Regions from separate parts of the Homo sapiens genome. Here region 2 is linked to region 1. Evidence: fine-mapped expression QTL. A gene starts in region 1. The other region holds a variant in brackets. All regions are shown on one strand. Distances are from middle to middle. Region 1 holds the start of LINC02713 (long intergenic non-protein coding RNA 2713). Region 2 has its middle 340 kb from the start of CNTN5.

The links. PIP is the estimated chance that this variant, and not a neighbour inherited with it, causes the effect. A credible set is the group of variants that fine-mapping cannot tell apart.
Region 2: its variant is the best candidate, but not a certain one, in a credible set for the expression of LINC02713 in testis (GTEx, PIP 0.81).

Annotation. Positions count from the first base shown.
Region 1 is chr11:97,953,903-97,959,297 of GRCh38, reverse strand. LINC02713 (long intergenic non-protein coding RNA 2713) reads left to right here and starts at 2,215. Exons shown (of 6, transcript NR_183633.1): 1 at 2,215-2,327.
Region 2 is chr11:98,677,881-98,683,275 of GRCh38, reverse strand. No RefSeq gene overlaps it. Among named protein-coding and RNA genes, the nearest start is that of CNTN5, 340 kb to the left of the region's middle. The variant C/T (reference allele first, on the strand shown) is at 2,297.

The sequences.
Region 1 (5,395 bases):
ATCTTTATGTGTTCCTACTTTTCTATCTTCCTCATTCCCTTTTTCCCTTCCTCCATCCTTTTCTCCTTTCTTTTTTCTTCCTTTTATTATTTCTTTCCTGCAAATGTCCCTGTTATCTATTTCTAATATATTTTAACTCAAAAATATTATAAATGTATTGCCTTTAGCAGTTATGTGTATTGAAAATACCTTTCCCACTATATAGCTCATTTTTCACTTCTTAAAAATATTGCTGAAATTCATACTCTTAATGTGGTCAAGTTTACCTACTTTTTTTTTTAACAAATAGAGGGAGTTTTATTGATTATATGAGCTGTGCAGAATTGCTGTGTGTGTGTGTGTCTGTGTGTCTGTGTGTGTGTATCTATGTGTTACTAGTGTGAAGTAGTGGTCCTTGATTTCCGACCTTTCCTAACTGCTCTGCAGTTCTTTCTTTTTCATATATCAACATTTTATATGTACATGATACTGGCTTTTTAGTTTGCTTTATTATTCTTGTGCAAGGAACATCTTAATTGTTCTTGACCCTTCTTAATAGGTCAGATAGCAAAGATTTTACACTGTGGGCCATACAGTCTTTGTTGCAACCTGGTGTAGTATAGAAGCAGCCACAGACAAGACATAAATGAATGGACATGGCTATGTTCCAATAAAGCTTTACTTTTAAAAAAGGGGTGCCTTGCCTGTGAGCCAAATGTTGCCAACTCTCAGTTTTGTCTAACCTTAAAGTAGTATAACCCTATACTACTTTAATGGTATCTAATTGTGGGTTTACTTTGATTTATTACATACCTTAAGTAGTAACTTTATTTATTACTAAAGTTACTACTTTAGGTATGTAATACCTATACTAGGTATGTAATTACCTAATATTTAAAGTAGTAACGTTAGGTATGTAATAAATATTTCCATCTGGTAAAGTTTTCTTAATATATGTTCTTTCAGAACATCTGGGCTAGACTAAAAACATTGTATTCCTATAAAAATTATAAAATCAGCATATCAAGTCTCTTCATCCACCCTCCAAAACCCTATAGAGATTTCACAGAGATTGCAATGTACCTGTATTTTCATTTTTTGTAAATTGACATCTTGAGTTTTTAAATTCATGAACATGGTATATTTCCCCATTTATGTTGGTTTTCTGGAGTATCTTTAAGTAGTTATATAGTTTTCTTCTTCTATGCCTTGCGCATATTTTCTTAGATTTATTCAGAGGCACAAAATATTTTGATGCTATTTTAAGTAGTTTTGTTTTTAATTTCCAACTATTACTACTATATGTAAATAATAACTCATATCTAATAGAGATCTAAAATCCTGCAACATAGCTAAATTTTGACATGAATCTAATATTTTATTTGTAAATACTCGGGATTTTTAAACGTAAGTATATAATTTGTGAAATTTGCATATTATAACTGAAAGTTTTATTCCTTCTAATATCTGTGATATTGTATGGATTTTGTCCCCTTCAACTCTCATGTTGAGATGTGATTCCCAAAGTTGGAAGTGGGTCTGGTGGGAGGTGATTGGATTACAGGGGTGGATGCCTCGTGGTTTAGCACCATGCTCTTGATGATAAGTGAGTTCTCACTGAGTTCATGCAAGATCTGGTTGTTTAAAAGTATGGGACCTCCCCTTGCCTTGTTCCTTCTTTCACCGTGTGGGACACCTGCTCTCCCTTCACTTTCCACCATGATTATAAGATTCCTGAGGCCCTCACCAGAAATAGATGCCAGTGCCATACTTTCTGTACATCATACAGACCAGTGAGTTAATTAAAACTTTTTCTTTATAAATTATCCAGTCTCAGGTATTCCTTTATAGTAATGCAAACAGATAAACACAATCTGTAAGAATTATCATTCTTTATTTCCTTGGATAAGACCTCTAATACAATATTGAATAGAAGTGATAATATGACACACATCTTTTTTTCAGTCTTAAAGAAAAAGCTGGCCAGGCACAGTGGTTCATGCCTGAAATCCCAGCGGCTCGTGCCTGTAATCCCAGCACTTTCAGTGGCTAAGGTGGGAGGACTGCTTGAGCCTAGGAGTTTGTGACCAGCTTGGACAACATAGTGGAGCCCCATCTGTACAAAAATTTAAAAATTAGCTGAGTGTTGTGGTTCACACTTGTAGTCCCAAGTACTCTGGAGACTGAGGTGGGAGGATCTATTGAGCCTGGAATGTTGAGGCTGTAGTGAGCCATGATTGTCCCACTGCATTCCATCCTGGGCAACAGAGCAAGAGTCTGTCAAAATAAAAAAGAAGAAAAAAAGAAGAAAGATTTTAATTATTTTTATCAACAATTATACATTTTCAGTAGGTATATTATTATACAATTTAATTCAGGAAGTCTTCTTTTATTCCAAGTTTGTTAACAGTTTTTATAACAAATACAGGTTGAATTTTGTAAATGACTTATTTTGTATCTACTAAGATGATCATTTTATTTCTTCTGTACTCTGTTAATATGGCAAAGAATTTATAATGATATTTTAATATTAAATTAAATTTCCAGAGGCTTATGGTTTCTGCTAAAGATGTAAATAGCTAGAATGCTATTCACTCCCAATCTTAGCAAAAACAAATCACATTGAATGTATCATGAGATTATCCTATAGCTTCCATAGGCCAGCTTTCAGGATTACTGCTGCTTCTTTGAAATTCATCCGTGTTTTCTTTGCTTGTTTATCCTCTGGGCTCTTTTACTATTTTCAAATTTTCATTGGTTTTCTCCAGCTTAATTGGGACATGGATTTCTTTCTATATATTCTGCTTTGAGTTCATTGTTTTTCTTAAACCTTAGGAAGCACTTCGTTTATTTTAGAAATACATTGTTATTATATCATTTTATATGGCTTCTATCCATTTTTCTTTATTTGTCATCTGGATTTCTAATTATGTATATGTTTGACTGTCCAGTCTTCCTTAAACTTTTTAACCTCTCTTCCTCACATCTCCCCATGGTTTTAGTTTTTTATTCCATTATTTATTCTGAATACTTTTGTTTCATGTATTCTCATTTTATTGAGTAATTTGTGGATACGTTATATTTCTATTTAATTTTTTCTCTATGTTTGTTCAATAATTTTAAATATATCAAGTACATGGATTTGTAACTATTTTATGATCCTGCCATTTTATCTTAAATGATTAGTTTACCTTATAAATGCATCATTAATCATTTTCTTTGATTTATAATTTGAATTATAAAATTTCTATTCATTTTTGGTATATTGGTGTTATATACAGCAACAACATTTTGCACTCTATATCATCTCTGGAAAAAAACTAGACATGTCTTCTTTCCTAATGTTTATAAATTTTCATTCTTTTTTAAAATCATTGGTCTAAATCTTTAGGACAATTCTTATGAGAAGCACTAAATGTGATCACCTTTGTTTTACTATTTATTTTTATTTATTTATTTTATATATATTTTTTCATCTTTATCCATATATTTGTTCTTAGTTAAATTAGTAGATATTATGCTGACTATGAGCATCTGGTTAATGTTCTTTATCTAATTATGAAAGTTATTCTATATTTCTAATCGAAGAGTATAATTTTTATAAGTGGAGAGTTAAACTTTTTTGAATATATTTTTGTCCTTTTAATGAAATTATCATGTTTTTCCTTTAATTCGTTGAAGTGATAGAATATAGTAAATAAAGTGGAATTAAGAAATACATTATTTGAAATGCAGATGCCAATGATCTAAAAGTCCAGGTAATTGAGTAGATCATCAATATAAATTTTGATTTTGTTAAGAATAATGATAATAATAGTGACATAAGGGAAGGATGGTAAACTAGGTGAAAGAATGAGGAGAATTTAAGAATGAGAAGGAATGAGAAATGTTAATAGATGCCAGTATCAAAGAGAGCTTATAGATAATGAAGTCTAACGGCACCAACTTGAAGAAATCCTTGGTGTTTGAGAGATAACAAGTAGTCTAGGAGCTGAAATGAGATACATAAATATGCTATCTTTATGCCTTGCAATACATAGATTATTGGAAGGAAATAAACAACAACTACAGCTCCCACTTTAAAGGCTCCTTTGGCTATCACATCTTCAACAACATACGAGTCAAAACAGGAGACTTCAGAGAATAGTTTGAAGTAGAATAGGGGAGTAGGGTTACTGATGAAAGAAGGTGTTACAAAGGGACCTAGTGAAAATGTTTGAGAGATAAGGAAAGAATGAAAGATTAGGTCGCTTTAAGAAATGAACAGAATTTTATGAGGATGAGTTCTAGTGGTGAGAGATTTCTTGGAGACTTAGACTCTTTTGATAGCGACAGGAGGCACAGAGGAATAATAATTAATGAGGAGACTTTTAAAATATTTCATAGGAAAGATAACACATCAGTTCAAATTAGAATCTCCCTAGTATGCTCCTTTTTTGTTAATATAAGTGTTAATTAAAAGTTTAAGTCACAAAAACATTGAATTTACTTATAAAATAATTTAATATATGTAATCTAATACAGCAGAATTACTAAATGTCAGTCTTCAATCTACTGTTTTATATTTAAACATGCAAATTTATATAATTTAATGATTTATTTTGCTTTATTTTACTCACCATTTCAGCTACAAAAATTTACAGTTTAAGATTATGTAGCGATACACTGAGAGATTTTCAACTTATCCGAGACAACATGATGATTGGAAAGGATGTTTATTTTAAAATCAAATAGGCTGAGATTGTACTTCAGGTTCTTCTACTTAATCATGATGATTTGATCTTTTCAGAATTACTGAATCTAGTTTTTTTAAGAATAAAATTAGAACAATATAATTTTTAGGATTAAATGAGTTATGTAGAATCCCTGGTCATATTTGTTGCTCAGAATGCTAGTCCCTGTGAATTGCCTGAAAATTAAATGAGGTGACACCTGATCAGGGTAGTATGAAGAGAACCATTTGACCTTAAAATTGTTTAAAGAAAGAACCAGGCTATACTATTGAATTCAATCTTCTCTTCATTCTGGTTAAAATATAGAGATATGTACATATTTAGAAAACACTATATTTTCCCACTTCTATTAACTATGAAACATCCCAGCTAAAGCAAAGATTAAAGGAAAACAAAGGCAATGAATAGGAAAAAAATAGTATACTCCCTGCAATAATTGACGAATTCAACTTATTCCAAAAACGATCTGATTCACTTTTATGGGAAGATTCCAAAGTAAGCATGCTTGGGTTAGAAGCTGATCTATAAGCAGATTTACCTGCCTTAGTTGAAAAACAAAGCTAGGGGAGGGAAGAATATTGCTAATTTTTACAGAGACAAAAGAAGGCAGGGAAGACATTGAGATTGCATTTTATATCAGTCTTGGACTTGGAAAAGTAAGACTTTTTCTTGACATGTAAAAC
Region 2 (5,395 bases), 720 kb before region 1:
TTGCACTTGAAATCCTCGAGTTATTTATTTAAAGAAAATATAATTAAGCATAGTTTTATTAGTTTTAACACAACTGTGTTTTGTTATTTCTCATACATGACTTTTCTAAATTGCTTACTGTTTATTAGGATCCCTAGCATTTTACCTATCTCCAAAATCTTTCAGACTTCTGTGGTATATCTAATATTTAGGATAAACTGAGAAAACTAGAGAGTAGGAAAAGCAAAGATATTTAGTTCTGTGATGCATTTCTAAGACAAATCACTAAAATCTCAAAAGGCAACCTTTCAAAGGAGTTGTGCTCTCCCAAATGTTGATTGTGTTTCCTTTTGTACCTAGAAGATAATCCTTTAATTGCATACAGTCATTTATTTCCATTAGAGGCAACATAGAGTGCCTTAAAGGTTTTCCACCTTGTTCTTGATACTTGCCCTCTGTTCTCTTATATTTTCTCTTCCTCATATCTTCTATTAGTAAGGAAAAAGCCTATTTATCTATTTGTAAAAATTGTTGAAATAACTAATGCAAGTGAGGTTATATATGGATGTTGATTTTCCCAACTCTTATTAACAATCTAACCATTGTGCAAGAAGTTCTAATGAAATATTTTGCTGTGAAATTTTACTTTTCTTCGCCTTTTGGTGACCTCACTTGGATAATTACAGCATATGGTCCCAGTGAGTATGAAACGTGAATATAAAATGTAACTGTTTTAAAACATGCCAAAAGCTAGTATAACAATAATCCTTCCTAGTGTTTTCTAATGAACAAAATGATAATTTACCAGATGTTTTAGATTTACAATAATTAGAATCATAAAATCTTTCCAATAGTATTGAGCCAAAATGTAAAACATTGTATATTATATACTTCAGCTGTGATTTTCTAGCCCAAATTAATTTATCAGGCTCTTCGTTAAAAATGTACAAAGTTATATCATTGATTTTAATTCTGAACTGTAGTTTAAAAAATTATGTTTATTATCTATTGCAATCACTCTGTTATAACCATAAGAGCTTTCAGAAGTCAAATTGTGGAAGAGTTTATCATTTTAGGAGAAAATAGCTATCCTTAGTGAATTATACAATAGTTTGAAGATCCATATTCTTAGAAGTTCATGTGAAAGGCAGTCAGAATGTTAAATATATTATTCGCACATGTTTAACATGAGTTTAACAGAAGCAACTTTTTCAATAACAATATAATACTGAGTTAGTATAATCGACTTATACATCTTACGTATATTTGAAAATGTAACATATTTTAAAATAAAATCTCTAGGGCGTTTCCAGTGAGGATTACTAGTTAACAGGGAGAAACAATCTTGTACTATGTCTAAGTCACTGTTACATTATTTGTTAAAAGCTCATTGACCATCTCAAAACTATTTCTATATCTACTTCTTTCTGAAGTGAATAATGGTCGTCTTGAGAATTATTACTAATTATTGGGGCAAATTAATGATAGTATCTAAAATATGTATTTTGCTTCTGCTGTACACAGAGTGACTATTTAAGATAATTATATCTTGTTTATGTATACAGAAGCAAGTTAAAAACCAAAGGCATTTTCTGACAATATGTCCAACTACATGCAGCCAGAAAGCATCACTGCCACCAAAAAAGACCAAATTATTGAGTAAATCAACCCTATCTGGGCAGATCTTCAGAGAGAAAACCGAGAGTGAAAGGGGAGGTGGCACTGACACCACAGCGAAAGAGTGAGGACGCTGGGAACCCTGCATGAAATATCCGAATGCCAAGGCTAGTTCCTGGTCCTGAATGGCTCCTGGGGAAGAGATGTGTGAGGGAACTGAGGAACAGCTTACTCTTGCCATGGGCCTCTGGGATCCTATAGCTGCAGGTTATACCACATCCCACCTCATGGACCTGTGAGCCAGCAGGAGCATCTGCCCGGGGAGTAGGCAAAAACGACTTTGGCCAGCAGAGTCCAGGAGCTTTTGTGCACAGGGTGGCTCTGGCAGAGCATGGCCACAAGTGTCCACTCCCCAGGTCTTCCCAACTTCCTCGGATAGGCTGTAGCCCCACTTGACCGCTGGGCCAGGAGAAAGTGAGGCTAGACCTGGGGTGCAGTGGCTCATGCCTGTAATGCCAGCACTTTGGAAGGCCAAGGCGAGCAGGTTACTTGAGGTCAGGAGTCCGAGACCAGCCTGGCCAACATGGTGAAACCCCGTCTCTACTACAAATACAAAAACTAGCAGAGCATGGTGGTGCCACCGGGGCCCCTCTGTAATCCCAGCTACTCGGGAGGCTGAGGCAGGAGAAACGCTTGAACC[C/T]GAGAGGTTGCGGTGAGCCAAGATCGCGCCACTGCACTCTAGCCTGGGCAACAGAGCAAGACTCCATCTCAAACAAAAAACAAAACAAACAAACAAAAAAGGTGCTGCTGGCTTCTCTGTGGGACTGGGGCATGTCTGTTCTGTAGGCCCTCCTGCCCATCACCCTTTGCAGGGTCCCTGCCTAGCTGCCGCACAGTGCACCCTCCGCTGATCTCCCTGGGTGCTTTACTCTACCTAAGTACTTTCCCAGCAACCTATAAGCACTTTGGATCCCCCATGAACAGCCTGGCCCTGAGGCAGACCATCTGGTTGCCCCAGGGCTGCAGCATGCAGCTTGAGAGTGCTGAGCTGAGAGCTGTGGTAGGCATTTGAGTGGGACTGGATCCCCTACTCTTGGATCATGGAGAAGGACAAGATGCACAGCAGGTTCAGGGACCAGCGGGAGCAGGGATGATCCAGAAAGGATGTAGTGTGTCCTATCTCCCTGCTATAGCTTCTGTCTGAGAAAGCCCCGTGGCCCAGAACATCTAACAAACAAATTCAGGTGCAGCACCAGTGATCAAAGGGGGCTCCGTCAAGGCCCAGGGGCAGACCTGAAGAAGGGGGTCTCTCTCTCCCCACCCCACACTGCAGAGCATGCCTGCAAGTGAAAAGAAACACAAAATAGCCAAGCAACTGAGTAAGTGCATGTCCATCAGCAATTATTCTTAATCACCATCTACTAAATCACATCCCAAACTAAAACACCAAAAAAAGGCATTCTGTTAATATACATACCTGGGAAACCAGGAGCAAGGATTGACCGGGAAATAAAGATCTTCTACAGGGCTTTGGCCATCTTAAAGTATCTGGAAATGAACCCAACTGACTACACAGAACTTATACCACAGTCAAAGGAATACCAGCACCTGCCAAATGAGAAATGATCATCACAAGAAAAGCTAGAATGTCCCCTTACTTCCAAAGAAGCCCACTACCCCCCTCCCCCACCCCCAAAATTGTACTTAACCAGACTGAAATGGTTGAAATGACCCACAGAATTTAGAATCTGGATGAAAAAGGAGCTCACTGAGATGCAGAGAAGGTTGAAACCCAATCCAAGGAATCCAAGGAATCCAGTAATACGATCCAAGAGGCAAAGGACAAAATAGCCATTTTGAGAACCAAACTGAGCTTCTGGAACCAATAATTTCACTACAGGAATCTCACATTACAACTAGAAGTATTAACAGCAGAATAGACTAAGTTGAGAAAAGAAACTCAGAGCTCAAAGAAAAGTTATTTGAATCAACTCAGGCAAAAATAAAGAGAAAATAATGTAATAAATTGAACAAAACTTCTCATAAATATGGGATTATGTAAAAAAAATGAAATTTAAAACTCACTGGCACTCCTGAGAGAGAAGGAGACAGAGTAAGCAATGTGGCAAATATATTTGAGGATAAAGCCCACACAAAATTTCCCTAATTTCACTAGAGAGGTTGACATGCAAATTTAAGAAATACAGAGAACCCTGGCTAGATACTATATAAGACAACCAATTTCAAATCACATGGTGATCAGATTCACCAAGGTTAATGTGAAAAAAAAAAAAATTTAAGGCAACTAGAGAAAAAGATCAGTACACCTACAAAGGAAAACCCCATCAGGCTAGCAGCAGACTTCTTAACAGAAAATTTACAAGCCAGAAGTGATTGGGGACCTAATTCCTGCATCCTTAAATAAAAGAAATTTTAACCAAGAATTTCATATCCTGCCAAATTAAGCTTCATAAGCAAAGGAGAAATAAAATTATTCTCAGACAAGCAAATGCAGGAAATTTGATAACTCTAGACCAGCCTGGAGCCGGGCGTGGTAGCTCATGCCTGTAATTCCACTTTGGGAGGCCGAGGTGGGCAGATCACGAGGTCAGCAGATCGAGACCATCCTGGCTAACACGGTGAAACCCCGTCTCTAATTAAAAAAAACACAAAAAATTAGCCAGGCGTGGTGGCGGGTGCCTGTAGTCCCAGCTACTCGGGAGGCTGAGGCAGGAGAATGGCGTGAATCCAGGAGGTGGAGCTTGCAGTGAGCCAAGATCATGCCACTGCACTCCAGCCTGGGCAAGAGAGAGAGACTCTGTCACAGAAAATAAATAAATAAATAAATAAATAAATAAATAAATAAATAAATAAACCAGACTTATGAGAGGTTCATAAGGAAGTGCTAAACATGGAATCAAAAGAATGACACCTGCTACCACAAAAACACATTTAAGCACATAGTCCACAGACACTTTAAAATAACTACACAATCCATTCTACGTAACCACCAGGTAACAACACAATTACGGAATCCAAATCTCACATATCAAGGCTAACACTGAATGTAAATAAGCTCAACACACCAACTGAAAGACATGGAATGGCAAGCTGGATAAAAAGACAAGAGCCAATCATCTGCTATCATTAGCAGACCCATCTCATGTAATAACACCCAGAGGTTCAAAGTAAAGGGACGGAGAAAGATAAATGATACAAATGGAAAACAAAAAAGAGCAGGAGTCACTATTCTTATGTAAGCTAAAACATACTTTAAACCAACTACTATTAAGAAGGGCAAAGAAGGGCATTGCATAATGTTAAAGGGTGCAATTCAACAGGAAGAGTTAATTATCCTAAATATATATGCACCCAACACTGGACCACCCATATTTATAAAACAAGTTCTTCCTGACCTACAAAAATACTTAGACAGTCACACAATGAAAATGGGAGACTTCAACACCCCACTAAGAGAATTAGATAGGTCATCTAACAAAGCAATTCTTGATTTAAACTTGACACTTGATCAATTGACCTAATAGACATCAACAGAATACTCCACCCAGCAACCACAGAATATATATTACTCTCACCTGTACAAGGAACATACTTCAAGATTGACCACTTGCTCAACTATAAAGCATGTCTCAGTAAATTTTAAAAAAAAATTATACCAAACACATTCTCAGAGCACAGTACAATAAAAATATAAATCAATATCAAGAAGCTCTCTTAAAACTATACATATACATTTAAACTAAACAACTTGCTGCTGATTAACTTCTGGGTAAACATC